7 separate regions of the Homo sapiens genome follow, and regions 1, 3, 4, 5, 6 and 7 are each reported to be linked to region 2. The links are microRNA targets in miRTarBase. Many come from high-throughput screens and were not tested one by one. Region 2 holds a microRNA gene; each other region holds the end of a gene's coding sequence.
Evidence for each region. Region 2 holds the annotated microRNA hsa-miR-3941 (UUACACACAACUGAGGAUCAUA, at 2,921-2,942, shown strand). A microRNA usually pairs through its seed, bases 2 to 8, with sites in the 3' UTR of a target mRNA and lowers its output. Matches are read on the target gene's strand: a 7mer-m8 pairs with bases 2 to 8, a 7mer-A1 pairs with bases 2 to 7 and ends in A, and an 8mer does both.

Region 1 (4,289 bases), not on the chromosome of region 2:
CTGCAGGCCACCGAGGTCCGTATCTGCCCTGTGGAATTCAACCCCAACTTCGTGGCGCGTATGATACCTAAAGTGGAGTGGTCGGCGTTCCTGGAGGCGGCCGATAACGTGAGGATCCTTACCCCGCCCCAGCATATCCCGGGGAATGCGGGGCGGGCACACCTCAGCCGGGCTGAGGCGGGAGTTCGGGATGCCCGGAGATAATTTTGGCCTCTTGCCCACAGTTGCGTCTGATCCAGGTGCCGAAAGGGCCGGTTGAGGGATATGAGGAGAATGAGGAGTTTCTGAGGACCATGCACCACCTGCTGCTGGAGGTGAGAAGCGGCCCATCACTTGCTTCCCGGGCCACCTGCCTCCCGCACTGAGGCTGCCAGTGCTCAGCTCTGTCCCTCCCTGCCCGCAGGTGGAAGTGATAGAGGGCACCCTGCAGTGCCCGGAATCTGGACGTATGTTCCCCATCAGCCGCGGGATCCCCAACATGCTGCTGAGTGAAGAGGAAACTGAGAGTTGATTGTGCCAGGCGCCAGTTTTTCTTGTTATGACTGTGTATTTTTGTTGATCTATACCCTGTTTCCGAATTCTGCCGTGTGTATCCCCAACCCTTGACCCAATGACACCAAACACAGTGTTTTTGAGCTCGGTATTATATATTTTTTTCTCATTAAAGGTTTAAAACCAAAAGCGGTTTCTCTTTGCAGCAAATATACATTAAAATAGAGTCTCTGTACAGCCAAGGGCTCTGGGCCCTGGCTTGCCCCATGTCCCTGCGCCTCCCTGGCCAAACCCAAAAATAAATATAGTGTTATTGCTCTGCAGGGCATAGAGGCAGTGCTCTCCTACCCCCTGAGGAGGCTCGTTGGGAGCTGATGGGGAAGCCCTGGCCACCCCAGGGGTCCAGGGGCTGGAGTCTGCTTGGAGTTATTGCTTCAAGGGGGGACACTAATGCCCAATGCAAATGATGAGAGGAGGAGCGAAGGGGGCATGGGCCTTTGCTCTCCAAGTCCCACTCTGCTTTGAAGAGGGGGTAGGATTAAGCAGCAGCAAAAGCATCACCCACTGGGAGACTCTGGCCTCCATCCCCTTCCCTCCCTGAGATAGGTTTCTGCCTCCCACGCATCCCGTGCAGCCCCCTATGGCTTCCGCAAGGCCCCCTACACTCTGGGGGCACGTTATGGCTTGCAAGGGGCAGCACTGTGCCCAGAGCCTGGACACACGTTCCCAGCTTCTGACACCCCCTAGGAGGGGGAGGAGAGGGCGTGGGGCCTGTTCCCAGGGGCTGATGGCATTGCCCTGGCCCTGCCAGCAGGCTGTGGCACTGCCCAGACCCCAGCTCCGCCCCAGCCCTTGGGGCTGACCCCATGCTAGGCAGGTCCTGCCAGAACCCCCACCAGTCCCACCCCTTGCCTCAGTCCATCATGGCCTCGAGCATCTCCAAGAACAGCTTGTGCATGGGCACCTTGCCCTCCAGCTTCACCCCATAGAAATGGGCCAGCACTTTGCCCGCTGTCTGGCGGAGGAGCGGTAGCGTGAGCAGCAGCCTGCCCGCCCGCCGCCGCTCAGCACCCCCTCCGGGGCCAGCCCGGCCGGCTTCATACTCCAGCAGGGCCTCGTGCAGAGCTTCTCGCAGCTGCTCCACAGCCTCGGCATCTTCGATGTGCACAGAGTCTGCAAGAAGAGAGGAATGTGGTGTTGGCCTGGGCTATCTCTGGCAAGGGCACTCCCCGTATCTTGAGCACTGCTGGATGGGGCCTAAGGAAGAGCCAAACGAGGATTTGTTGATTGGCTGACTGAGAGGCACCACTCATTGCTGCGGCTCGTGGGCCAGGACCCCACCCTCTCTCCCTCAACTGTGGCCACCTTGTACCCTCCCCACCTTCCCTCCCACTAAATGACCTTTCTGCATTAGTGTGGCACTAGGGCTCAAAATCCTGTGTGCAGTTTGGAGCCTGCACTTGGCTTGCTTTTTGACTTCTAGCAAGTCATTGTTCTTCCCTAAGCCTCAGTTTTCGTTATCTGCAAAATGGGGCTGTGCTACCGTCACTGAGTTAACCTGAAGACCTTACGGAGACACCTCACCTGTCAGTGCCTGCCCCAGACTCACCTGAATTGGCAAGGGCCAAGGCCTTTAGTAGAACATACTCCTCTCGCTCCAGCCGCAGGGCCTGCAGCCGCCGCACTAGTTGCAGCAGGGCAGCCCCCAGTTCCCCCAGGCCAGCTGCCCGTGCCCCCTCTTCATCCAGGACTAAGTCCTCAGCGAAGGCCAGCTCATCCTGCAGTGGCAGTGAGCGCTGGGCCACACCCAGCACCAGCACCTCCATCCACACGCTCTGCAGTACTGACATCTGGTCAGACAGCGACAGCGATGAGAAGCCTAGGGGGCAGCGGGGAGCGGGCCTGGCTGAGCAAGCGCACCAGAGCCGGGCCCGTTCAGGGCAGCCCCGGGTCACCTGGGCCCTTTACCTGGGATGCTCTTGGCCCAGCTGATGGTGACCACAATCTCTCGGTCAAAGAGGTCACAGAGGGTAGCCACGGCTGGGAGGTGCCCATCAGGGCCTGCGGGGTCAGGCATGGCATAGAGCTTCTCAGGCTCAACCACCAGCAGATGAGACACCAGTGCATTCACTGGGGCTGCTGTGACAATTAGAGGACAAGAGTCAGGAGCACTCGAATCTGTCAGGCCTCAGGGGTCAAGCATCTTCCCACAGTGGCTCCCCCTGTGGCCTTCCTCAGTAGCAGCTGTCCAGTGACTTCCCTCCAGGGAAGAGCGCTAACTGTCTCCCAGGGAAAGCCCGTGTGTTTGTGGACAGGCTGTGAGTGTTGGAAAATCGTCCCTGTTCCCAGTTCTACTACTTTTCCTGATGCAGGAAAAGGCAGTTTCACATGTCTTGGGGAAATGAGTGAGTGAAGAGACGAAGGGGAAATACAGGTCCCAGTGCCCAAGGTAACTATGATGCCACACATAGGCCTCCGGTTTCGTAGCCCCAGGTACCCACAGTGCTCTCACCTGTCTTCCGGGGGCCTCCAGCGACTGCCAGGGGCCCAGCAGGGAAGGGGCCCGGGAAGGGCAGTGGGTCCACCTCCGGCCGCCGCTTGTACTTCTGCCGCCCACCCCGGACGCGGTCCAGGCGCACTCCTTGAATTGTGGGACAGATAGGACTGTGACTGTGGTGCTGTGGGCAGGGTGGGGCTTGCTCTCCAGAGCTGTCCTCCCCGAGTCCACTCACCAGAACTCCCAGGCCTCACCCCCACCTGGCCCGGGTCCCCGACTCCCCCAGCCCTCGCCCAGCCCCTGCCCAGCGCTCACCCTCCTTGAGCATGCCCACCCGCAGGCACTTGGTGAAGCGGCAGGCCTGGCAGGCCTTGCGTCTCCGCTTGGTGATCTCACACTCGTTGGAGGCCGGACAGCTGTACTCGATGCTCCCTGCCAGGAAGAGGCAGGGCTCCAGTGGCGGCCTCCCGGGGCTGGGAGGGGACCCAGCTGACAGGAGAGCCCTGACTCTCCCCGGGCAAGCACAGGTCTGGGGGTATGGGGAGGAAAGGGAGAGCAGGGGGCCATGAGCAGGCAGGGAGGGGAGTGGCTGCTGGGCGGGGGAGCCCTGCCTGGATGAGGGAGGAGCTGGACCAGGCAGCGGGGCTGCATCTCAGCCCCAAGCCTCATCTCTGGACCACACTGCCCTCATCTGCCGACATCAAGGGCCACAAGGACCTCTGCATTGCTAAATCCAGTGGTCAATTCTTAGTCCTCATGTTACTTGGCCTAAAAGGAGGATCTAAGGCTGTTGATCACTTCCTGCTCCTAGAAACACTGAAACACTTTCTTCTTTTGCTTCTAGGACAGCATACACTCTGGTTTTCCTCCCACCGCACCAGCCACTTTGTGGTTTCTGAGCATCTTCCCAAGCTCTTCCATCCAGACTGCCAGGGCTGTCCTTGGAGCTCATCTCCAATCCCATGGCAATCTTCCCCAGCCGTGGGGCTCTCACGTTTCTACCTCTAGCCTGGACTTGCTGTGAGCTCCAGACCCATCTCTCCAGCTGCCTCCTTGACATCCTGCATGTCTAGAAGGCATCTCGGACCGAACACAGCCTACGTGGACTCCACGTGTTCACTTGCCCAAGAAGAAACCTAGGCAGAATCTCTGGTTCCTCTCACACCCCACATCCAAGCCACCGACACATTCTGGTGGGCTTTACCTCCTCCAAGGTCCAGAATCCGCCTCCTGCCCCTGGCAACTACTTCCACCCTTGACCTGATAGTCACTGTCACCTCGCCCCTCGCTTGGCTGTCCC
Region 2 (4,390 bases):
ATTGTGTGTTTACTTTTTCCAAAAGTAATGATTTTAAACTGTTAACCTTCTGGTTACTATGTACCTAGATTAAGCTTCTTTCACTGGTATTATGACCTATGTTGACATAAGGGGTAAGACTATTTTCCTGTAGTTGTGTTAAGACACTGTATTAGTTTGTATCTGTGGCTGTTTTAATTTTGTCTAGAGTTAAGATTTTGTTGCATTGTAATTTTGGTATAGATATTTCAGTAGTTTCTAGGATTTTATGGAGGGTATAATTTTATTGCATCATTTATTTTGTAGTATAGTTTTAAAAATTATAAAATAATATATGTCTATCATAAAAGGCAAAAATTGGTAAATTGGACCTCATCAAAATAAAAAATACTTGCTCTATGAAAGACCTTCTTAAGAGGATGAAAAGAAAAGCTACAAACTGGGAGAAAATATTTGCAAACCACATGTCCAACAAAGGACTTTTATCTAGAACATAGAAAGAACTCAGAACCCAACAGTAAAAAGCCCAAGAAATCCAATTAGAAAATTCATGAACAGATATTTCATCAAAAGATAAAAGATAAACAGATGGTAAGTAAGCACATGAAAAGATGTTCACCATCATTAGCTAGCAGGGAAAAAATACAAATTAAGAGCACAATAAAAGATCACTGCACACCTCTCAGAATGGCTGAAATAAAAGTGACGACACAAATGCTGCCAAGGTTGAGGAGAAACATAATCTCTCAGGTGTTGCTGGTGGGAATGAAAATTAGCCACTCTGAAAAACAGTTTAGTGTTTATGTTTTGTTTTTTTTTTAATAATAAAAGTAAGCTTGTGATTACTGTACAACCCAGCATTTGCAGGACTAGGTGTTTATCGTAGAGAAAGGGAAAATTACATTCACATAAAAACTTGTGCATGAATGTTGATAGCAGCTTTTTTCCTAATAGCTAAAAGTGGGAAACAACTCAAATGTCCTTTAATGGGTGAACAGTTAAACAACTGGTCATCCATCCATACCATGGAAATATAGCAATAAAAAGGAATGAACTCTAGATACAAGGAACAGTCTGGACGAATCTCTAGAGAATTATGCTGAGTGAAAAAAGATAATCTCAAAAGATAACCTTCTGTATGCTTCCATTTACATTACATTTTCAAAATGTCAAAATTATAGTCTTGGAGAACAGATTAGTGGCTGCCAGGGGATTTAGGGGTAGGAACTCTAAAGTTCACAAAGGAGCCTTGGGGTGATGACCAATTCTGGGTCTTAAATGTGGTAGTAGTTACACAGATCTACACATGTGATAAAACTGCATAGAACTGTATAGACACACATAGATGAATGTATGTAAAACTGGTGGAATCCGAATAAAGTTTGTGGGTTGTGCCAATGTCCATTTCTTGTTTTTTGATAATGTTACGCCGTTTCCCTTTGAGGGGAAACTAGTGAAAGGGTACATAGGACCTGTTGTACTTTTTTTGGGCAGCTTCTGGTGAATCCTTATAATTATTTCAAAATAAAAAGTTAACTCCTTCCCCAAAAAAGAGCACTGGTGGCAGGACTTGTGCAAAACAAGAGGAATGGAAATTTGTGCTTTAATCAGTGACAGGAAAATTAAGAGTAAGTATCTCAGATTAATTAGAAAACTCTTCAAAAATCTGTTTCTGACTAATCTAAGGTGGATTTTAAGATTTTCTACTGGGATAATATGAAATAAAAGTATGCTAAACAAGCAAGAAAATAATTTATTTATTTTGCTTCATTTTAGAAAGAAGAAGTAAATGAATGTGGTGAAAGTATTGACAGAAATAATCTGAAACGGTCACAAAGCCATCTTCCTTACTTTACTCCTAAACCACCTCAAGATAGTGCGGTTATCAAAGCTGGATATTGTGTAAAACAAGGAGCAGTGGTGAGTAGCTTAACAAAATACATGAAATAATGAAAAAGGATTACGTTCTAGCAAACTCAAATTAACATGGAAATTGTTTGCTTTATTTTATGAAAGACCCAAAGTGAGAGACCGGCATGCTGAGGAGAGTCAGGAGATAAAATAGGGGATATTCTCTGTTTATAATTCAATGCTGTTATTTGCTTGGTTTGCAGGGGGCCAGGAAAGTTAATGCCCATTACCACTGACTTTCAGTTTAAATGAGCTTTCCTAACAGTTTAATGTTTTAGAAAGTGTTTCTATTCATCTTTACTCATACTCAGGAGTGGGTCAGGGAAAGAGAGCTGTTGTGGGGAGATGGCAGGCCAGCGGCAGGAGAAGGAGTGGTGCCTAGGAGGTCTCTTCCTTGTTTAGGCATTGGCCTGACCTCCGTGGTAAGCTCTCTGACCTTGGGCTACTTACTTAACCTCTCAGGCCCTCAGTTTCTGTCTTAAGGAATATCATATAAAACCTACCATCTAGGGTTTTGTTTTGTTTTGTTTTTGTTTTTTAAGAGATGTAAATAAGAAAGGTGTGTTTCCCTTTGCACAGCACCTGGTACTTAGTAAAAGCTGTTATGGGTTAGCCCAGGTATTCCCATATAATCAGTTCCATGATGAATTTTTTGCAAGAGCAAGTAAATTTACCAATATTTCTAAGGTTGCAACATACCTTAGTATCTAAGCCATTCTTTCTATGTGAACTAAATCTTTAGAATTTCATGAGAAAATTAACTTTAAAGTTTGAAAATGTTTTTTAAGTCTGTGAGTAAAGAAATACTTAAAATTATTTTGGTGGTTCTGTTTGACTTCTCATCACTTTTTGGCAACTCTTAATTTTTTTAGGGCAGCCAGGGGAATGTCCTTTCACCTGTTTGACCTGCTTTAGGCTGAGGAAAATGATGGTGAGGGCAGGGGTTTCTTACTGTACAATGTCTGCAGGTAGAGTCAGAATTCTCATCAGGCTGTGATGCTCAGTTGTGTGTAGATTGAAAGCCCTAATTTTACACACAACTGAGGATCATAGCCTGATGGTTCCTTTTTGTTTTACTCTTAAGTCCAAAATACCAGTCAGAGATATTTAAGTGCTTCTGCAAAAACTGTTATTTTATTGACAAAAAATATTTGTACAAAATAGGTTTACTTTATTAAATATTTAGTGCTTTACTACTATGTATAAAGTACTTGTGGAAGAATTCATATGTTTTTACAGATGGAGAAACTTGATGTGGTTTAATAACATTTCCTGTGTTTGCTCTTTACATGGGGTTGGCGGGGGCGAGGAGTAGGAGGAAGGGGAAGTGCTTTTAAAAAAAAAAAAAGTTTCAACATTAAAAATATGAAATAGGCCAGGCATGGTGGCTCACGCCTGTAATCCCAGCATTTTGGGAGGCCAAGGTGGGCGGATCACCTGAGGTCAGGAGTTTGAGACCAGCCTGACTAACATGGTGAAACCCTGTCTCTACTAAAAATACAAAAATTAGCTGGGCATAGTGATGGGAGCCTGTAATCCCAGCTACTCGAGAGGCTGATGCAGGAGAATTGCTTGAACCCAGAAGGCAGAGGCAGTGAGCCGAGATCGCGCCATTGCACTCCAGCCTGGGTGACAGAGCAAGACTCTGTCTCAAAAAAAAAAAAAAAAAACACATAAAATCATACAATAAAAGATGAAAGCCAGGCACCAGAAATTGAATTAGGAATTCAAAGCCTGGGTAGCTAGAGAGGGATGAGGTTTAATTTATCGCATCTCTAAGGGAAGTAATGAGATTTTTCACTGCTTGGCATGTCTGATTGTGGGTTCATATCAGGGTAATTAAGTGGTGACTAACATTTGACATTCTTAGAAACACAAGTCTTATGTCTGTGTTCATCTCTGGTAGATGAAAAACTGGAAGAGAAGATATTTTCAATTGGATGAAAACACAATAGGCTACTTCAAATCTGAACTGGTATGTTGTTACGTCATAAATGTTGCTATAAGAATGTTTGAAAAGTGTTGCAATGTAGTGATTATATATAATTTCTTGTACTGTTCTGTAGTTTCAGAATAAGTCTAGTTTTTAGAGGTAAATATAGTTTATTTGGTTGTGATGCTTTTGGTTAATGATATTTTTCTTAAATACATTTTTAAGTAAAAAGATCCTATCTTCAAAGCAGCATTCCACCTTGAAAGATCTGAAGATCTCAGAATCCTCTAGTCTATAAATTTCCTCTAAAGGGGCTGTCCTCTTGGGGGGTTAGCCCCACGTGGAGTAGGGAGAGAAGGGCATCCACATGGGGAAGGGGTGGTGGCAGAGATGGGAGAATGGTCACATACACAGTGATTTATAAAATCAGGAACTATATTAAGTATAATAGAAGCCAAGTCTTTTCAGAGAAACAATACTTTTTGGTGAATGAATGTATATCTGTATATATGATGAGGAATGAGATATTTACATAGTTTCAAAGTACCTATCTACTAAAATAGGTAT
Region 3 (4,367 bases), not on the chromosome of region 2:
TAGAATTTTCAGCACTATTTAACATGCTAGATCACTCCTTTTCGCTTGAAACGCTGAACTTCTATTGACACTGCATTCTGATTCCCTTTTAAGTCACTGCTCACCCCTTCTCAGTTTTCTTTGTAGGTGCTGCATTCTATACCCAAACTCTAAATGTTGGTGCTTGGCAGAGCTTAGTCTCGGATCCTCTTCTTTGCCCTCTCCCTAGTCTCTGCACTTGTCTATTAATATACTTATATATTAATAATCACACAGAATATTTAACATGAAGCATATAGACTGATGTTTTTACACATGTAAGCCAATTCATGTCAGTCCCCTGTTAAAACCCCTCAGTGGCTTTCTGTTGTGCTTAGAAAACAATCCAAAGTTCTTAACATGCCTACAGGCCCCTGTGTAACCTGGGTCCTCTGTTCCTTTCTGATCCGTCTTGTATCACTCTTCCCCTTGCTCACTATGCTTCAACCAAAATGACTTTCTGCTCTCCAAATATACCAAGCTCATTCCCACTTCAGAACCTTTGCAATTATTGTTTTCTCTGAATGGAAAGTCTGGTTCTTTCTTATCCTTCAGGTCTTGGCTCAAATGTCACCTTCTCAGAGAGTCCTCAGACCACTCCATCTGCACAGTAGTTCCTGAGTCAGTCACTATACATCACCCTGTTTATTTACATCATAATGTTAACCTCACTGTCTGAAATACTCTTATTGGTTTGCTTGTATATTTTCTGTCTTCCCTATTCAAATGAAAGTTGCCTGAGGACAGAGACTTTTTCTGCTTTGTTTACTAGTGTCTCTAGAGCCTAGAAGAGTACCTGGCACACAGTAGGCACTCAATAAATGTTTGCTGAATTAATGGATGAATATATAAGAGAATATGAATGGGGCCACATACGATCCTCACTTCTGACCTGGAGTCTGCAGCTAGAGGAGAGGTGTTTAGCTTTAAAAGAAAAAAGTTGGCCGGGCACGGTGGCTCACACCTGTAATCCCAGCACTTTGGGAGGCTGAGGCAGGCAGATCACGAGGTCAAGAGATCGAGACCATCCTAGCCAACATGGTGAAACCCCGTCTCTACTAAAAATACAAAAAAATTAGCTGGGCGTGGTGGCGCAGGCCTGTAGTCCCAGGTACTCTGGAGGCTGAGGCGGGAGAATCGCTTGAACCCAGGAAGCAGAAGTTGCAGTGAGCCAAGATTGTGCCACTGCACTCCAGCCTGGCGACAGAGCGAGGCTCCGTCTCAAATTAATAATAATAATAAAAGAAAAATGTTTAAGTACAGTTGGCAATAGCTCTGGCATGAGTTGTCAGGCACTAGAACTCTGTAACAGCCTCAGAATAAGAAGTCTCTAGTGACTGTGTGCCATTTGGAGTCTGATTTCATCAACCCAGAGTCTCTTGACAGAGTCTCAGGAATACAGGTGAGGGAGCACTTCCCAGACTGCTGTGGCCATTAGCCCATCTTCGTAGGAAACTGTTATGGGGTGGCTAATCTTGCTGTACAACCCATCTTCCCTGGTGGGCTGAGAGTGGGGCCCCTCTTTAGCCTCTTCTGGTGTTTCTCCTCAGGGATCAGTAATGGGGAAGTGGTGGACTGGATGGACTCGACTGGGGAAGAAGTGAGCCTGTGGCAGAAGATGCGACAGTACCCAGGGTCTTGGGCAGAAGGGACTCTGCAGCTCCGTTCCTCAATGGCCAAGCAGAAGCTGGGTTTATGAGTCCCTGTCCTCTTCTGCAGGTCCAGCCCTGGCGAGGGCAGGTCAGAGGAAGTGAAGAAATCAAGAGCAAAGATTTATAATTTAATGTGTATGTGTGTATGTGTGTATGTGTGTGTGTGTGTGTGTGTGTGTATGTGTACAAACATGTATTTTCTGCAAATCTCATTATGCTGGCTAGAGTGATGCAGACTTGTTCTTCTTTTTAAAGCAGTCTCAAGAATAAGCATTTCTTTAAAATGTTTCTGTGTATAATCTAGTTTATTTTCAGAGTCCATTTTTTCTTATGTCTTTATAAGGTTCACTTAACTTAAAAACAGCTTTTAAAACAACTTTTTATCTTCTGTCTTGCTATCATTGTTCCTACTTCCCTAGGAAGCCCTGGCTACCTTTCGCATTAGGACCAGTCTGGGTTTTAAGGCTCTGGGAAGCAGGGTTGGTTAGTAAAGACAGGAATGTTGGGGAGAGGTGAGTAGTTCCTTCCTCTTTCTCCTCTCCAATTTATGCTTTTAACTTATTTTCTACCTGGATAAACTTCTGGAACTTGGCTTTTAAATTTAACTTTTCTAGTTTTTAAGCAGTTTCCACCTTGCTTTGGTCTAATGCTTTTCTTTGAAATGCTAACAGAATTCCCAAGCTTTTTCCAGTTCTAGATATCTTTACTAGACCTTTGGGGGACTCTTATAATGGAGCTGCTTTTGAAAAGCACTTTAATTAGATAATGTATTTTGACTAAATCACGAGGATGCCCAGTGAGAGCTTCTAGCTGATCTCAGAGGACCAGAGTGACTGAGGGTAAAGTGTCTCACAGCCCATGCTGAATTTTCTGCATTTTAAACTGATACTGCAGTCATTGGAGAGAGAGCTCCTCATTTCTCGAATGAAAGATGAGATATATTCATCCTCATGTACCACATCTGTCTTAGTGTTTGCGTCTGGGGTGTGTTATCAAACAGAGCATGGTCTACATCCCACTGTGTCAACCAGAAGAGCCAAGTGTTATCTCAATTGGCCCAGTGTTTCTCCAGGCTGGGGACTGTTAAGGGCTCTAAGGGAATGTAGACAGAGTCTCCCTGTTATTCTGACTTCCTGCTTGATGAGCTTTCAGTTCCTGTTTTTGCTATTGTTTCCTAAATTTGACCTACATATTACATGGGTGTAGTGTGTTGAGGCTTTTCAAAGAAGGGTCTAGTGAGCTAAGTTTCATCTTCTGGTACTCATTGATCAAACTGACCTTTCTATTCTCATAAGCGTTTCTACCCAAAGTTGTGTGTGGAAGGAGTGTATAGCAGAGAGGAAATCCCTTTCAACAGAGTCAGCTGCTAACTGATTTCCTATAAGCACACTGGATTAAGGGCAGCCACAGTGGTTTCTACTGTATGTATGAACCGAATGGAGGAATGTTTTCAAAGATTGATTTGGTGTGGATTGCAATTGTAATGGAAGGCATAACTTGGGATCCCGGGCTGTAACTTGCTCTTTTGTTTCCCACCCCCCTGACATGTATGTGTGCTTTAATAAAGCTTTCTCACTTGTCAAACGTTTGTGTTTGTTAGTTCTATAAATGCTTTTGTCTCTGATGTCCTCACTGTTGCTTTTCCCCTGGCTTGAAGGATAAGAACCAAAGTGATAAATGCTCTTCCCTAACCATCCTATGCTGATTGAAGAAAATTCACCTTTCCCCGCATTGCTGCCTGATACCTTAAATGCCTGATACTTTCGCTGAGCTTGATCCCTCGTCCTTTGTATTTGGTATCTAAGGAGAACACTGAGAAATCATCTTTAAAGTGGCACCACTTTTCTATCTTGTAACAAAGGAACTCTTCCTTTAGCTTTGCAGACCCTCCTATACTGGAGGAAGGAGAGAGATGTTCATACAGGAGGTGAGGGGAGACATTCCCTGCTATAAGCACTTCTTTCTGGATCCTTCAATTTCTCTGGGAGGCGGGGACTTTTTCTTTTACTCCTCCTACCATTATGTAGTTTTGAGAGAGAAATAACACAGGTGCCAAGTAACCCAGCTCAGAAATAAGGCTCTTGATTTCTAGGTAGAACCCAAGCAATTCTTGACCTCTTGTGCAAAAGGGCATTAATATATATCAAATGCTTTTTATGTGCAAGGCTTCATATACTATTTCTTTAATTTCTCCAACCACTTTATGAAGTAGGAAATCTTCCCTTTTTACAGATGAGGAAACTCAAGCCTACTGTCACGTGACAGAGTTGGGCTTTGAATCAAAGTCTGACTCTACTGCACCATGTGGCCTCCTGTGAGAATGGTATGTGTGTTATGGGTGAAGGGTCAAAGGAAGACGTGACTCATCTCTTCTAAAATATCTTAAATAAGTTCAATTTACAAAAAGTAGGACAATCAGAATGCTTTGGATATTACCTAGCCAACTTAGTGACTGTACTGCTTGTGAGTGAGTGTGTGTGTATGTGAGAGAGAGAGAGACAGAGAAATAGGGGAGAGGAATAGGCAGGATAAGAGAGAATGGGGCAGTGGGGAGAAGTGGGGGAGAGGTGGGCAGAGAGAGAGGTACAATATATACAGGGGTCGGGCTAGCCCCTTTGGGTCTGGCTGTGGGTCATATTCTGCTGCTGTCTCTCCCCTACTTTAGGAGTTGGGATTTCTCAAATCCTCATCTTCAAA
Region 4 (4,571 bases), not on the chromosome of region 2:
AACCCCCATCAGAGAATACTATAAATACCTCTAAGCAAATAAACTAGAAAATCTACAAGAAATGGATAAATTCCTGGATGCATACACCCTACCGGGACTAAACCAGGAAGAAGTTGAATCCCTGAATAGACAATTACGAGCTCTGAAATAGAGGCAGCAATTAATAGACTACCAAACAAAAAAAAAAAGCCAAGGACCAGATGGATTTACAGCTGAATTCTACCAGAAATACAAAGAAGAACTGGTACCATTCCTTCTGAAACTATTCCAAACAATTGAAAAGGAGGGACTCCTCCCTAACTCATTTTATGAAGCCAGCATCATCCTGATACCAAAACTGGGAAGAGACACAACCAAAAAAAAAACTTCAGGCCAATATCCCTGATGAACATTGATGCGAAAATCCTCAATAAAATACTGGCAAACTGAATCCAGCAGCACATCAAAAACTTGCCCACCACAATCAAGTCAGCTTCATCCCTGGGATGCAAGGTTGGTTCAACATACGCAAATCAATAAACATAATCCATCACATAAACAGAACCAAAGACAAAAACCACATGGTTATCTCAATAGACGCAGAAAAGGCCTTTGATGAAATTAAACATCCTTTCATGTTAAAAACTCTCAATAAACTAAGTATTGATGGAACGTATCTCAAATAATAAGAGCTATTTATGACGAACGCACAGCCAATATATCATATTGAATGGGCAAAAGCTGGAAGAATTTTCTTTGAAAACTGGTACAAGACAAGGATGTCCTCTCTCACCACTCCTATTCAACATAGTACTGAAAGTTCTGGCCAGGGCAATCAGTCAAGAGAAAGAAATAAAGCATATTCAAATAGTAAGAGAGGAAGTCAAGTTGTCTCTGTTTGCAGACAACATTATTTTATATTTAGAAAACCCCATCATCTCAGCCCAAAAACTTCTTGAACTGATAAGCAACTTCACCAAAGTCTCAGGATACAAAATCAATGTGAAAAAATCGTAAGCATTCCTTTACACCAACAATAGGCAAGCAGAGAGCCAAATTATAAATGAACTCCCATTCACCATTGCTACAATGAGAATAGAATACCTAGGAATACAGCTAACAAGGGATGTGAAGGACCTCTTCAAGGAAAACTACAAACCACTGCTCAAAGAAATAAGACAGGACACAAACAAATGGAAAAACATTCCATCTTCATGGATAGGAAGAATCAATATTGTGAAAATGGTCATACTGCCCAGAGCAATTTATAGATTCAATGCTATTCCCATCAAACTACTGTTGATATTCTTCACAGAATTAGAAAAAACTATTTTAAATTTCATATAGAGTCAAAGAAGAGCTTGTATAGCCAAGACAATCCTAAGCAAAAAGAACAAAGCTGGGGGCATCATGCTACCTGACTTCAAACTATACTATAAGGCTACAGTAACCAAAACAGTATGGTACTGGTCCCAAAACAGACATATAGACCAATGAAGCACAACAGAGACTTCAGCAATAACACCATACATCTACAACCATCTGATATTCAACAAGTCTGGCAAAAACAAGCAATGGGGAAAGGATCTCCTATTCAGTAAATGGTTCTGGGAAAACTGGCTAGCCATATGCAGAAAACTGAAACTGGGCTCTTTCCTTACACCTTATACAAAAATTAACTCAAGATGGATTAAAGACTTAAATGTAAAACCCAAAACCGTAAAAACCCTAGAAGAAAACCTAGGTAATACCATTCAGGACACAGGCATGGGCAAAACTTCATGACTTATTGACAACTGAAGCTCAACCTATATATAGTTCTTTACAAATTAAAAATGGATAATATTAACTATACGAAGCCCACTAGCATTTACATAAAGTTACTTCAACAAGTTTCATAGGTTTCATGCTACATAATTTAGTGAATATGGCAAACACAGTCAAATTTATTTAGCACCATTTCAGCTAAAAGTATCAGCTTTTAACACAGCTACACGCATCCATCACCACCACCACCACCACACAATCAAACACCAGTATTTCAAACCCAAAAAATCAGTAGCTAATTTACAAAATAAATACTGCTTTTAAAAGCAGTAGTAGGAAAGTTAGGTTAAAAAGCTGTTGCTTGGAATTTTTCAGCTTAGATCCAGGAAAAATTAGCAAATTGAAAATTTTAAGAAAGACCACCATATTTTATTAAAGTTGGATGTGACTGCCCTTTGCAATTAATGTTTCATGCACCAGAAAAGCATAATTTCTGGTTGTCAAAACAATAACTTCCTTGCTAGTTCAAACTATAGTTATACAGCTCTAAAGAAACATTAACAATTTGTATAAATGGGTTGAAAATGTGATTATTTTCTATTCAAATTAATAATGCAAACACGAATACAATGTTACTTCAAACAATTAAGAAATTTTATCCAGTCGTTAGCTAAGTAATGAGGTCGAGTAATCCCCAGTAACTTCCTGTGATACCAAAGGGAATGTATGTTATCTCTAATGAAGCACACCTGGGTCTGTCATGAACTAACAATGTGAAGGTGAGCCCTTTGGCTTCTGGGGGATTTTATTTCCTCTGCTGTAGAATTGAAGGACTTTGTTTAAGGTGTCTTACAAAGACTTCTTGCTTTGCAAAAACGTGTTGGGTGGAGTAAGAAGTAAATTTTTAAAGGCATTTGGACTTTTTTTCTATCTGTAGAACAGCATAATTCAGAACTATTCCACACTGTTGTTCTGGAAAAATTTTCCTCATGCAATGTAATTGTAATGACTGACATTAAAAAGTCTGAAAATGAAACATCAAACAATAAAAATGTGGTTTCAAATCTTTAAAGTGCTTGCAATATTTGGGTTAAAAATGATGCACCACTACCAGTTAGAATATCCCATCTTTGAATTTTAAGAGCTAAGAGTCTGAGAAGGGGAAAAATGACAAAGAGATTGCATTATTCACGCTATTCTTCCATACATGCATTCAGTGCACACCAATTGAAAAGTAAACACCTTGAAATACTACTAAGAAAGCAAAGAAAGATTATTCCTTCCATCAAACACCATACAAAAACCACATTATCTACACACACACACACACACATACACACATGTTGTCTCGAATGAATCAAACAAAATAAAAAAGACCATTATGACTAAAAACGCTGTATGAACCAGCATGTTTTCTGTGTTCCAATGACGCACGTACATTCTGCCTTATTCTAATTGGTTTTTCTTTTCTCTTTCCATCACAAGGACCACTTTCTGAGTTTCTAGTTCAATGTTGTTCCAGGTATTTTACAAATCCTACTTGCTTCAAAGTTACAAGGAACATCATTCCAGGCCCATTTATCTTGGTTATAAACAAGAACAACACAGTTTTCTCCCTGAGAGTTGTCGGGTTCATTCTTATGCCAGAATCTGAAAGAACAACAACATAGATAGAGATTTATAGGTATATATAGACAATGTAGATTATAGGTGTAGATTAGATATAGATATATTAGGAGACAATTCAGAGAAATGTCCCTAGTGAACAGTTTAGAACTGCACTAATACTATACTCACTAGACACATGTAGCTACTGAGCACTTGAAATGTGGCTTCTCTGAATTGAAATGTGCTTTAAGTCTTAAGTGCTGTATTTTGAAGACTTAGTGCCAATGAAGAATGTCAAAGACCTCAGTAATAATTTTATAATGATCACATGTTGAAATGATAAGATTTGGATATATTGGGTTAAATACATTATTAATACGTTATTAAAATACATTTCACTTGCTTCTTTTTACTTTCTTAATATAACTAACAAAAAATTTTAAATTGCACATGTGGCTTTGCATTATATTTTTACTAAACGATACTGGCTTCAAGAAAGAAAATGACAAGATTTTGATTCTCTTTCAAAGAAAATTTTTATCGCTTATATTGTTTATTTAAATGTCAAGCCTAAAACAAATTTTATATCACTTCTATGCTATTCATTCTTTCATTATTGACATTGTGCAAATAAGAATACTGAAAATTGCATGCAAATTATAGGACCATTCTGGAACTGGGACATAGCATATGGAGATTACTCAACCTACAGTGGTCTCTCTTAACATTTTTATATCAATGTACTCCACTTCAAAATGAATGTTTCTTGCTACCATCTTCTAACCTTTGCTTATAAATCCCCTTAGCCCACTCAATATACTTACACTCTGCGTGGGTTAAATGGCGTCTGGTCCACCCAACGCCACTGACCTTTGGCATTCTCATCTCTAAGTCCAAGGAAATAGGAAAGCCGTCTATCCAGAAACTGAATAATAAAGTTCTGCATAAAAATGTAAATTTTAATATAGTTGCATGAATCAGGTGATGGCTATGATGTTGGAAAAAGAGGAAATATGTCAACTAGATTACTGGTTAAGCACAAAAGCTCTGGCATCAGATAGATCTGTTTTCAAATCCTGCCTGTAATGTTAGTAAGTGCTTCAATCTTACCAAACCCCCAGTGCTCTTGTCTTCAAAAGGGACAACTCCACTACTTTATAGAGTTACTAGGAAGATTAAGTGAGGTCAGACTTGCAACCCTTTTAGCACAATGCTTA
Region 5 (4,571 bases), not on the chromosome of region 2:
GGCAAAAGTCTTAATCAGGGGAGTATCACAATCTGACTTTTATTTCAAAAATAATCATTCTGGCTACTGCGTGGGAAACAGTAGGACACAAAGAGTAGAATAGAAGCAGAGCATGTGGCTATGAGGCATTTCACCCACATGACACAATTCCTCTTTAGAAACTTAAAGATGATAATTCTCAAATTGTATTTTAAGGTGTATATCTTTTACCACTTAAAACGGCTCATGATGCTGACCATGATTTTATACGCCTGCTGGAGAACTAAAGGAGTGTAACTGGATATTTCATAACACAAAGATAAATGCTTAAGCAATGGGTAGCCTTTCTTCATGATGTGATTATTTCACACTGCAGCCTGTATCAAAACATCTCATGCACCTCATAGAAAAATACCCCTACTATGTAACCACAAAAACTAAAAATTAAAAGAAAATAAAATTGCTCATATGTTCTCTGCCTCAAATAATTAACTTTCTCACCTGACCCTCCATTGTTACTTTAAAAATATTTGTCAATTATGAAATTCCAATTTAAAAGCCAAACTTTCTATGATGACTCAAATTAAAATACACACATTCTATGTCAATTCTATGACATTTACTTTGAATGATCTGGCACTTTAAAAACCTTTCGTGGACTTGATGTGCTCAGGCAAATTAACTTACCTTCTCTTTTTTTGAGAGGGAAGTCTCACTCTGTCACCAGGCTGGAGTGCAGTGGTGTGATTGTGGCTCACTGCAACTTCCGCCTCTTGGGTTCAAGCGATTCTCCTGCCTCAGCCTCTCAAGTAGCTGGGACTACAGGCACATGCCACCACGCCTGGGTAATCTTTTTTTTTTTTTTTTTTTTTTTTTTCATATTTTTACTGGAGACGGGGTGACGGGGTTTCACCGTGTTAGCCAGGATGGTCTTGATCTCCTGACCTCGTGATCCGCCCGCCTCGACCTCGGAAACTGCTGGGATTGCAGGTGTGAGCCTCCGTGCCTGGCCAAATTAACTTACTTTCAATGTTGATACTTTTCTGCTTATCGTTTAGATATAAAGAGAATGCTATGAAATTATCAAGAATTCATCATGATCAACCAGTGAAGCCCCTTGATCGAGCAGTCTTCTGGATTGAATTTGTCATGCGCCATAAAGGAGCCAAGCACCTTCGGGTTGCAGCCCACGACCTCACCTGGTTCCAGTACCACTCTTTGGATGTGACTGGGTTCCTGCTGGCCTGTGTGGCAACTGTGATATTCATCATCACAAAATGTCTGTTTTGTGTCTGGAAGTTTGTTAGAACAGGAAAGAAGGGGAAAAGAGATTAATTACGTCTGAGGCTGGAAGCTGGGAAACCCAATAAATGAACTCCTTTAGTTTATTACAACAAGAAGACGTTGTGATACAAGAGATTCCTTTCTTCTTGTGACAAAACATCTTTCAAAACTTACCTTGTCAAGTCAAAATTTGTTTTAGTACCTGTTTAACCATTAGAAATATTTCATGTCAAGGAGGAAAACATTAGGGAAAACAAAAATGATATAAAGCCATATGAGGTTATATTGAAATGTATTGAGCTTATATTGAAATTTATTGTTCCAATTCACAGGTTACATGAAAAAAAATTTACTAAGCTTAACTACATGTCACACATTGTACATGGAAACAAGAACATTAAGAAGTCCACTGACAGTATCAGTACTGTTTTGCAAATACTCAGCATACTTTGGATCCATTTCATGCAGGATTGTGTTGTTTTAACTGTTGTTGAGGAAGCTAATAAATAATTAAATTGTATAGAAAGTCTCTTCCTCTTGATATTTTGAGATGATTAGTGCTGCTTGGCTTTTATTGTGCATCGTGCTTCAACGTCATTTTTTTTCCTAAAAGGTATGATAAAAATGCTTACCATTTTAGAGCTTAAGTCATTTCCCAGTGAAAAGTATGTGGAATTAGAAATATAGCAACTCCTACCTGGTTTCTACTACAAAATGAACTAATTTTACAATGCGTTTGGTTTTTTGAGCCAATTCTATTTTTCTGTTCATTTGAAAATATTCATCTTTTTTTATTCTTTGTTTTTTAGGTATTTCAATAGCTTTTGGGTGACAACTGGTTTTTGGTTACATGGATAAGCTCTTTAGTGGTGATTTTTCAGATTTTGGTGCACTCATTACTCAAGAAGTATACACTGTACCCAGTGTGTACTGTTTTATCCCTCACATCCCTCCTACCCTTCCCTCTGAGTTCCAAGAGTCCATTATATCATTCTTATGCCTCTATGTCCTAATAGCTTAGGTCCCCCTTATAAGTGAGAACATACATTGTTTGGTTTTATATTTCTGAATTACTTCACTTAGAATAATGGTCTCCAACTCCATCCAGGTTTATTTTGTCCATTTTGATGGCTGAGTAGTGTATATATATATATATAATATATGTGTGTGTATATATATATATTCCCCAACTAGTGGCTAAAGTAAATGTGATATTTATATATAATATATATTAGATATATATAATTATATATGTATGTGTATATATATATAATTATATATGTATGTGTATACAAACACACACACACACACACACACACACACACACATATATATATATATATATCTCACATTTTCTTTATCCACCCATTGACTGATGGGAATCTAGGCTGGTTCCACAGTTTTGCAATTGTGAATTGTGCTGCTATAAACATGTGTGTATATGGGTCTTTTTCATATAATGACTTATTTTCCTCTAGATAGATGTCCAGCAGTGGAATTGCTGGATCAAATGGCAGTTCTACTTTTAGTTATTTAAGGGATATCCATATTGTTTGCCATAGTGGTTGTACTAGCTTGCATTCCCACCAGCAGTGTAAATGTGTTCCCTTATTACTACCATGCCAACATCTATTATTTTTGGATTTTTAAACTATGGCCATTCACCATTTGTATATCTTCTTTTGTAAATTGTCTATTCATGTCCTTAAGTCACATTTTGAGGGATTATTTGTTTTTGTCTTGCTGATTTGTTTCAGCACTTTGTAGATTGTGGATATTAGTCTTTTGTGGGATGTGTAGTTTGTGAAGATTTTCTCTAACTCTGTGAGTTATCTGTTTACTTTGCTGATTATCTCTTTCGCTGTTCAGAAGCTGTTTAGTGTAATTGAGTTCCATCTATTTAACTTTGTTTTGGTTGCCTTTGCTTTTGGGTTCTTGGTCATGAAGTCTTTGCCTAAACAAATGTCTAGAACAGTTTTTATGATGCTATCTTCTACAATTTTTATACTTCCAGGTCTTAGATTTAATTATTTGATTCATCTTGAGTTGATCTTTGTATAAGGTGAGAGATGAGTATCCAATTTCATTCTTCTACATGTGGCTTGCCAATTATCCCAGCACCATTTGTTGAATAGGTTTTCCTTTCCCCATTTTATGTTTTTGTTTGCTTTGTCAAAGACTAGTTGGCTATAAGTATTTAGTTTTATTTCTGAATTCTCTATTCTGTTTCATTGGTCTACATGCCTGTTTTTATACCAGTACCATGCTGTTTTGTTAACTATAGCCTTGTAGTATAGTTTGAAGTCAGGTAATGTGACACTTCCAGATGTGTGTTTTTTTTGTTGTTGTTGTTTGTTTTTTTGCTTAGTCTTACTTGGGCTATGTGGACATCAAAGCTGAGAATCAAATAAAAACCTCAACCCCTATTAAAGCATCTGCAATAATAATAATAATAATAAAATAAATACTTACAAATATACTTAACCAAGAAGGTGAAAGTTCTCCACAAAGAAGACCACAAAACACTTCTGAAATAAATCATAGATGATGCAAACAAATGGAAACACATCCTGTGTTCATTTGTGGCTTGAATAAATATTGTGAAAAAGACCATACTACCAAAAGCAATCTATAAATTCAATGTAATTTCCATTAAAATACCATCATCTTTATTCACAGAACCAAAAAAAAATTCTAAATTTCTTGTGGGTTCTATTCTCATTTTTCACCTTTAATGACAAATGTTAAGTTCTTAATTTTTGGTTGTAATAATATAGGAATTTCATTATGAAGGGATTAAGTGTATTTTTAATCTTGCTAAACATACATGTACATATACATGTCCATTTTTTTAAAATAAGACACTGCATCATTTAGTTACCTAATAGATAGGTGGTAAAATTCAATGTGTTTATTGAAGACAGTTTGAAATAATAATTATATTCCACATACTATACTTCAAATAATCATCTCTAATTTTTCTCTTTTTCCACAGGGTCTTTTGATCCATTTCTTCTCTAAATATAAAATAGAAGCATGAAATCTTTTAGGATGACAAAAAGTGTACAAAGTATACAATGAGTTTATAAATTTTGTGGAAAATAGCTAAATCAAGCCATAAACCTTCTTTAATATACACATCAGGGAAGCACTTTATGATAAAAGTGGTCCAGATGGACAAAAACTTAGTTGTCTTTGCTGGTAAGAAGCCTTACTATTTACTAATTATCACACAAGTATTCTCCAGTCTAAGGAATGATTTAAATATAAATATTATATATATATATTTCACTACATATGTATATATA
Region 6 (4,571 bases), not on the chromosome of region 2:
TGATAAAAATCACATCTGTGTTTCCTCAGATGGGGTTCAAAGACAACAAGGTGTCTGAATGACTCAGCATAATGCTCTCTCTCCTCTCCCCCTTTCATTTTCTCCTTTCTCCCTCTCCTGTCCCCATCTCTTTCTCTTTTTTTTTTTTTTTTTTTTTTTACCTTTCAGAAAACCACAGCTTTTGGACCCTAAAAGGTCTGGATTGATCGTACTGCTTTCTGAAAGGTAAAAAAAACAAATACTTTGGGAGGTGTGAAGGTTGGCTTTGTGGGGGACAGCAGGTTCATCTTGTAGCTCATTGCTGTCAACTTATGCCATACCATATGTATTTCAGTTTAATAACGGGGTGCAAATGTTTTGGTGTTGTATACACAGATGAAGTTAAGTCTCACCTAGGAAATGTCTGTTTCTAACAGTTGGGGTGAGAATCAGCAGTAAAAACCAGGTATATGGTAGCAGCTGGTCTAGAGGAAAATAAAAGCCCTTGGCTCCAGCCCTTTGTACAGGCCTTTAGTTTAGGGTCAGTCTCTCTGGAAATCTTGAGATTTTTATTGCTTCCTCACTGGTTACTTTTTAAAAATTCCCCAGTCAGCTTTCTACTTTTCAGAGCTTATTTCAGATTTAAGAGTTATCCTTGTAAAATTGATTTTTAAACCATTGCTTCCTCCTGGCATGAAATTTTGGAGAGAAATGTTATACTGACTGGGTATTTTATTGCTTAGTAAAGACATCAAAGACTTGGGGATTTTATGAAACTTGTTTCAAAGTATGTTGACAGTTGTATTTGATGAGTTTGACTATTGAGTTGAGGGTTTAAGTCCTATCACTGCTTTTAAAAAATTATTAGGGAGAACAACCAAAGATGAGGAAGTATGCCTGTATTTTGGGGTGGGGTTCACCACTGCATTAACCTCTACTGACTGGAAGATGCAGTCAACAATGAGGTACTACTGAGTATGGAAGTTATAGAAGGAGTTTCGTGGAAATGAGTGAGACAGGTTTTTCTATGAAAGTAAAAGTGGGGGAGTATATTTAAAGATAATTTAAAATAAACTTGAGCAAAGTAAAAAGAAAATAATACACCAATAATTTGGAACATGAGCTAAATTTTTTTTTCTTTTTTAGAAAGACAACAAAGTTGCTGCATAGTCTACAAACAAGTCTCTGAAAATAGGTGAATTTCTAGCTCTTCATGGTCCTGAACATTGATTTCAGTCTTTGCAAAGAATGAAGAAGTGAATTCGCTGTACATTTGTCACCAGCACTGGGTTTTTGTTTTTTGTTTGTTTTTCCGCTTAATTTCAAAGATAAAATGCAGTTACTTTTGGGGGTGGAAGGCTCATCTTAAAACATGAGCATTAAATATATTTGGAATAGCAGAAGGTTAAGTAATTTCTTATGTATAGTTAAACTAAAGCAGTACTTCAGTGGGACTTAACAAGTATTTTTTCATCACTGAAAGGTTTTTTTTTTTTATCACTAAATTGTATTTGGCAATTGCAAGTTGCCTGCAGATAGGGCCGTGATACTGTGTTTTGAGCCACAGAAGGTTGTGTGTGTGTGTGTGTGTGTGTGTGTGTGTGTGTGTGTATGTGTGTGTCTTTTTCCTCCTTTCTTTTGGGGAATCCTGTAATATGAGGTAGCTTATTTCGTCAATTAATTAGGGTGCTGGATGGTAGAGAATTTTGTCAGTCAACTATGTACACACAGTAAATACTGTTTCTTAGGCAAAGGTAACTTTTTTATATAGTTGTAAAATTCCATTATATTCCATTGCCAAAGAAACATTAAGAACTTTGTATAGCTGTATAAAAAGCAACTAATTTTTTAAAGAATAAACATTTTAAAGTCAGCAAACATACTGTGTCCTTGCAGAAGTTGATGTGCTGAGCAGCAGCCTTATGGGTGGGTCTTTTTTTCTTAGTTTTCCAGGCTTAACATTTTTGATTTTGTTTTTTAATGTTTGGAACATAAATGAAGATTTGATACATTATTTCATTATCTAAAAAGGATTAATTATTCATGCTCATTGTAAGAACTTCATTTTGTAGCAAATGGCATATCACAGGATCTGTCCAGATAATCGATATTTTCAGTATACAAATGTAAATAATCACAGATGAGAATGTACTTAGCTGTATTTTCAAATAAGTAATCTTCCCCCCTTTTGTAGGACTTTAAAACTAGGCATCAATGAACCTGTTTTTCCTATTATGCCTGGAATTTAGTCATGATACCTTGACTCATTCCATCATATTTCAAGAGGATTCAGAGTGCTAGAAATTATTTTGGTAGCCTGTAACACACGGCAACACTGGTCCTTGGGCCTATGATGACCCACAGATGACTCAGTATAGAGTTCATTGCTAATTATAAATTACTAGTGAATCTTTTTGATATTTTAAGCTCTAGTGGGAAAAATCTGGCCACTTTTGTGTTTTTATGAAGGCCATGGAATAAAAGGATCCAAAGATTTAAATATTTTTATCTAATATTTTGATTGTTTTCTTAACTTTCTCCTTAAAACATTCAGTAGTGATAAAGATATAGAAACTGCACTGTAGGAGAATTGGAATATTTAAGGCTGGTTGACATTTTTTATTTTCATTTTATATCTTTTGTATAGCTCTACAAGGCAGTGTTTTGTAATTTGGTTTCATTATGAAGATCCAGTACTTGGCAGCCATAGTTTAGACAATATTGTTCAGTGCTGTTTGCTTGCATGTTAACAACAAAACCTTTTAGAGGACCCACAAATCATGATATTGAACACAGTTCCGAGGCATTCAGAGCATCAGAGCAAGTACCATGGCAATACATGTGTAGACTGTTGGAGATGTCCCGGGCCAATTTCAAGAAAGAAAACTGTAAATACTAGTTCTACTTGCTCTGAAATTATGAGTTTATGCGTTTTCCCAGCCCTCCGAATCACTGACTGGGGCGTTTTGTGCCCCAGCAATAACTGGCAGCATGGCATACCTGCAGTACCCCTTACAATATTAAAGCAAAGTTTTTATTCTAAAACAGAATAAAACTGTTCAATAAAAAATGCTCGTCAAAGTTCTTTCTCTTTAAATAGTAACATTCTGTTTCAGTAGGAACATAATGAAAGGAATCTTTTAAATGGAAGAGCGGAATTATAATGTTTGTATTCCCTGTAATAACTATAAATCAGTTACTTTATTTCTAAGATTGAGTTATTGTTGCAGATGTTTAGGGAAAGCTAAAAGCCCCTTCCTTCCCCTCCTGTGTGTAAATAAAATACTTCTGAGATCAGATCCGTGACATGAGGAGATTGAGCCACCCAGGCACAGGCCAGGCTGGAAACAGCAGCCAGAACACACTCCCTGTGGGCAGACGCATGAAGAAGATGCAGAATCTGTCTATTAAAACAGTTCGCTCCAAAAGCTGGGCTTCATGTGATGGTAGGGCAAGAGGTCGGGAACAGCAGTGCAGCACAGTGGCTCTCGGTGGGGTTACCTGACATCCTAGGAACACAGTCATCTGTTGCTTAATAATAGCGACATGTTCTTATTTTTAAATAGCAATGAGGTCTCACTTCGTTGCCCAGGCTGGTCTCTAACTCCTGGGCTCAAATGATCCTCCCATCTTGGCCTCCCAAAGTGCTAGATTACAGACATGAGCCACCAGGCCCGGCCATGACACATTCTGAGAAATGTGTTAAGCAATGTCATCATTGTGTGAACATCAGAGAGTGTACTACACAAATGAAGATGGTATGGCCTACTCCACACCTAAGCTATATGGTGTAGCCTGTTGCTCCTCGCTACAAACCTGTACAGCATGTTACTGTACTGAATACTGTAGGCAGTCATAACACAGTGGTATTTCTGTATTTAAAACATATCTAAACAGAAAAAGTATAGTAAAAATACGGTATCATAATCTTTGGGACCACCATTGTATACCCAGTCCATCGTTGACCAAAACATCATTAAGTGGTGCGTGAGTACTGAGGAATGTGAGGGGATGTGTTTTGGTTGTCACAATCACTGGGGATCACCACTGGTATTTAAAAGTAAGGGCCCGGATGGTAAATGTCCTGTGCTGTGCCACACAATCAGTTGTCCAACCCAAAGTGCAGTAGTGCTCCTCTACTCTGAGAAACACTGGCTAAAGTCCCTCCACATGGAAAGACAGTAAGTGGGAAATTATTTCCTGCCAACTTGAAAAAAAAAATTTACTACTTAGGAAATTGTCCGCTTGGGAATATTAATAATAAAGGGAACTTACTTCCTGTAGCACATCAGCATTGTGGAAACATTACCACATAGGAGTTAGGGCTTCATCCTGTTCTCTGTCAGTGCTTCACAAATCTCTGATCAGAATCTACCAAGGAGCATTTTTAAGTACAGATTCCCAGGCCCAGAGAGTGATTCTGAAGTTCCCTAGTACAGCAGAACCCAACCTTTTTGGCACCAGGGACTGGTTTCACCAAAGACAGTTTTTCCACAGATGAGCAGGGGGTATGGTTTTGGGGTGATTCAAGTATATTTATTGTGCACTTTATTTCTATTATTACATTGTAATATATAATGAAATAATTACAC
Region 7 (3,000 bases), not on the chromosome of region 2:
CTGTACATACATCGATCATTCCGTATTCGCTTCTATTTTCTGCTTTCCTCTAAGTAAAACATCATCTCTGATAGAAAGCTTTATCTAACCATAGGCCAGAGGAATCACATTTTTCTCTCAGCTCCAAGCATTTAATATTTGGCCTTGTTTTGGGCACTACGCACTTGGCACATACTCTTTCTTGTTTTTTTCTCCTTCTGCTCACCCCTTCTCCCAGCCTAGAGCCCTAACGGCTGGTTCAAATGCAGCCTCTTACTTAAAGCCTTCCGGGTGTCTCTTCTTGCCTCAGTTGGAAGAAATCTTTCTTTTGAATTGTTATGAACAGAAAACTTGATTTTTGCCTTTTTTTTTTTTGGCATTTCACTTGTGGCTTGCTTTATGTTCTTAATTTCTCCTAAGAGATTGTAAACTCATGAGAGATCTGGCCTAGTGTTCTTAACTTTTAATCCCCAAAGTGCTTTGTACACAGTATGGCTCAATACATGCATTTATATGGCACAGGAAAAATGTACTTAAGATGTTGGGTGGCTTTTACCAACATAGCATGTCATTACTGACTCATCGATGCTCACTGGAAAAGCTTGCTCCCAGAGCCATGTCCCCAGGACTCTCTACTAGGTAGCCACCAAACTGCCAAAGACCCTATCCTATGCAAGTCACATAAATTGTCTGTTTGTAGAAATTCTTTCTTTTTTTCTTTTTTTGAGATCGAGTCTCACTCTGTTGCCCAGGCTGGAGTGCAGTGGTGTGAACTTGGCTCACTGCACTACCTCCGCCTCCTGGGTTTAGGCAATTTTCCTGCCTCAGCCTCCCAAGTAGCTGGGATTACAGGTGCGTGCCACCATGCCTGGCTAATTTTTGTATTTGTAGTAGAGACGGGGTTTCACCATGCTGGCCAGGCTGGTCTTGAACTCCTGACCTCGTGATCCGTCCTCCTCGGCCTCCCAAAGTGCTGGGATTACAGGGGTGAGCCACCATGCCTGGCAGAAATTCTTTCCTTTATTGACTGTAGAGGCTACTGCAACTAGGTGACAGAGGTGATTTGGCCCTGTTAGTTTCAAATCCCAATTTAAAGAATGATAGTACAGAGATGCCTGAACTCCCTGCCAGGTAATTTTATGTAGCTTATTCCCCATTCCATTTCTTTGATCATGACACAGGCCATTCAGGAAGTCCTATGGAGAGTAAATAGATGGACCGATTTTCAGTTTTGCTGTTTCTTATCCAAATCTTAAAAGGGATAAGGAGCATGGACTTTCAAAATCCAAAATTATAGAGCTAGCCCTCATCTTTACTCCATTTAGCCTGATACCAGGGTCTTCAGTGATCGTGATCGGGTTAAATAATCCCTTATGTCGCTACCTAAATTACTACCTGAGGGAAGCGTTAGAGGACATTTCCAGCTATACAATTCAACAATTTATACTTCTTTGCATGTACTAGTTTACATGTAATGAGACCTCGCTATATTGCTGATATTTGTTTGTAATCAGTGTTTTTTTCTCTCATACTCTCTGTTAACCTTCACACATACCCTCATGTTTTCCTAATATTTAAATTTGCTATGAAGACTTAAATTTGCCATCAAGTTCTCTATGAATTAACATATGAGTTTAAATTTTAACTTTTGTAATGTCTTAGGAACATGCATGAACACCCATTACTGCTGGTGAATGAAATTTCACTAACATCTTTCATTAACTTTCCCTTTTATTTCTCAAGTTTCCATGTGTCTTCTCATCTGAGGCCATACTAGCTTAATCTTGAATGCTCATAAAAAATCTCTGAAGAAAATTCACACCTTGGTTAATCTCTGGGGTTCAAAGCTTTTCTGTTTGGTGAAGAATTTGTCCTTTGCTTTCTAATTTAATCTTCTTTGATTTGTTCCTATTTAGAATAACTAAATTAAAAAAAATAAGGAAGAGTGCTTGTATTCGTTGGAACTTCAACTGCTTGATGCTTGACATAGAAAATCTAATTCAAATTATGCAAGCAAAAACATAAATTATTGATTTATGTAATGAAAAATCTTGTAGTATTCAGCTTTAGGCAAAGTTGGATCCAGAGGCTTATACATTCTCATCAGGTCTCAGTTTCTTTTCACTTATCAGCTCTTCCTTTGTTGTGTTAGATCCTTTCTCAAGGAGATGGGGTCTCCTCTCCTGGTGGCGGGATCTTTGCTGGCAGCTATAAGCTCCTACCCTGCTTTCATTAATATCCATTCAGAAAAGAAGCTCCCATTCTATTTCCAATTGCAATTCCACAAAAGTACCCTGATTGTATCTCACAGGCTCTGATTGGATCATTTTCTATTCCAGCATGAATCTTTGTGTCCATGAAGAAGAAATATACTGATTGGCTAAGGCCTGAGTTACAGGCCAATCACAGTCAGTGGGCTGAGCCAGCTCTGCATCAGTTGCTAGCTGGGCAGAGTGATTTCCCCAAGAGTACTTAGGGTGCCCAGATTGAAATAAGGCAAAGGGGTACAAGGAAAGGCATAAGAGAATTAGCAAAGAGGAGGCCATGCACTGGTTTCAGCAGAAGTATGATGGGATCATCCTTCCTGGAAAATAAATGTCCATTTCTAGCCAAAAGGCCAATAAAAAAGATTTTATTTAAATATTTTTTTTAAATAAAAGGAGCCACAAGATTTCTTTATACTCTGCTTTTGGAAAAGATGATGACACTGGTCAAAAAGGAGAGAGATGCAATAGCTATAGGATCAGGGATGCATTTCTTGCTGGAAGCTGTAAAAAACAAAACAAAGGAAATATTTTAGGTAGCAGAGTTTTTTTTAAAACTACCTCATCTATCCATTGATCCACTTACTTAACTTAGAAAATTCCTAATAAAAACATTTGAAGTTAGCTACTTAAAACACATTATTTTAGATTTTTCTAACATAACTTGCTTATTTTGCAGATGATGAAACAGACACCAAGAGGTTAAAAGATGTACTCCCAGGTAACCCAGCCAGCTGGTGGTAGAGATCTAATTTTC

Region 1: miRTarBase lists TRMT112 as a target of hsa-miR-3941. Seed matches in the 3' UTR shown: 7mer-m8 at 586-592.
Region 3: miRTarBase lists SYTL4 as a target of hsa-miR-3941. Seed matches in the 3' UTR shown: 7mer-m8 at 1,810-1,816, 7mer-m8 at 1,818-1,824 and 7mer-m8 at 1,844-1,850.
Region 4: the mRNA of CLEC4D is a reported target of hsa-miR-3941. Seed matches in the 3' UTR shown: 7mer-m8 at 3,080-3,086 and 7mer-m8 at 3,060-3,066.
Region 5: the mRNA of UGT2B4 is a reported target of hsa-miR-3941. The part of its 3' UTR that is shown has no 7-base or 8-base seed match.
Region 6: the mRNA of LSM14A is a reported target of hsa-miR-3941. Seed matches in the 3' UTR shown: 7mer-m8 at 1,585-1,591.
Region 7: miRTarBase lists ART4 as a target of hsa-miR-3941. The part of its 3' UTR that is shown has no 7-base or 8-base seed match.

Annotation. Positions count from the first base shown.
Region 1 is chr11:64,313,083-64,317,371 of GRCh38, reverse strand. It overlaps TRMT112 (tRNA methyltransferase activator subunit 11-2), which reads left to right. Exons shown (of 4, transcript NM_016404.3): 2 at 7-108; 3 at 225-314; 4 at 404-912. The coding sequence ends at 511. ESRRA (estrogen related receptor alpha) reads right to left here. Exons shown (of 7, transcript NM_004451.5): 3 at 3,305-3,421; 4 at 3,005-3,133; 5 at 2,461-2,631; 6 at 2,102-2,371; 7 at 629-1,665. The coding sequence ends at 1,406. Among named protein-coding and RNA genes, the nearest start is that of TRMT112, 2.3 kb to the left of the region's middle. RefSeq lists an enhancer at 794-1,309.
Region 2 is chr10:122,414,104-122,418,493 of GRCh38, forward strand. It overlaps MIR3941 (microRNA 3941), which reads left to right and starts at 2,862; the gene lies at 2,862-2,964. It overlaps PLEKHA1 (pleckstrin homology domain containing A1), which reads left to right. Exons shown (of 12, transcript NM_001001974.4): 7 at 1,756-1,899; 8 at 3,797-3,865.
Region 3 is chrX:100,673,378-100,677,744 of GRCh38, reverse strand. It overlaps SYTL4 (synaptotagmin like 4), which reads left to right. Exons shown (of 20, transcript NM_001370165.1): 20 at 1,569-3,254. The coding sequence ends at 1,717. It overlaps SRPX2 (sushi repeat containing protein X-linked 2), which reads right to left. Exons shown (of 11, transcript NM_014467.3): 11 at 1,957-4,367. Among named protein-coding and RNA genes, the nearest start is that of SRPX2, 31 kb to the right of the region's middle.
Region 4 is chr12:8,519,949-8,524,519 of GRCh38, reverse strand. CLEC4D (C-type lectin domain family 4 member D) reads right to left here. Exons shown (of 6, transcript NM_080387.5): 5 at 4,179-4,294; 6 at 2,154-3,396. The coding sequence ends at 3,249. Among named protein-coding and RNA genes, the nearest start is that of CLEC4D, 8.7 kb to the right of the region's middle.
Region 5 is chr4:69,477,377-69,481,947 of GRCh38, reverse strand. It overlaps UGT2B4 (UDP glucuronosyltransferase family 2 member B4), which reads left to right. Exons shown (of 6, transcript NM_021139.3): 6 at 1,038-1,783. The coding sequence ends at 1,314. Among named protein-coding and RNA genes, the nearest start is that of UGT2B4, 16 kb to the left of the region's middle.
Region 6 is chr19:34,226,240-34,230,810 of GRCh38, forward strand. LSM14A (LSM14A mRNA processing body assembly factor) reads left to right here. Exons shown (of 10, transcript NM_015578.4): 10 at 1,126-3,049. The coding sequence ends at 1,149. Among named protein-coding and RNA genes, the nearest start is that of GARRE1, 26 kb to the right of the region's middle.
Region 7 is chr12:14,826,716-14,829,715 of GRCh38, forward strand. ART4 (ADP-ribosyltransferase 4 (inactive) (Dombrock blood group)) reads right to left here. Exons shown (of 3, transcript NM_021071.4): 3 at 1-2,747. The coding sequence ends at 2,656. Among named protein-coding and RNA genes, the nearest start is that of SMCO3, 14 kb to the left of the region's middle.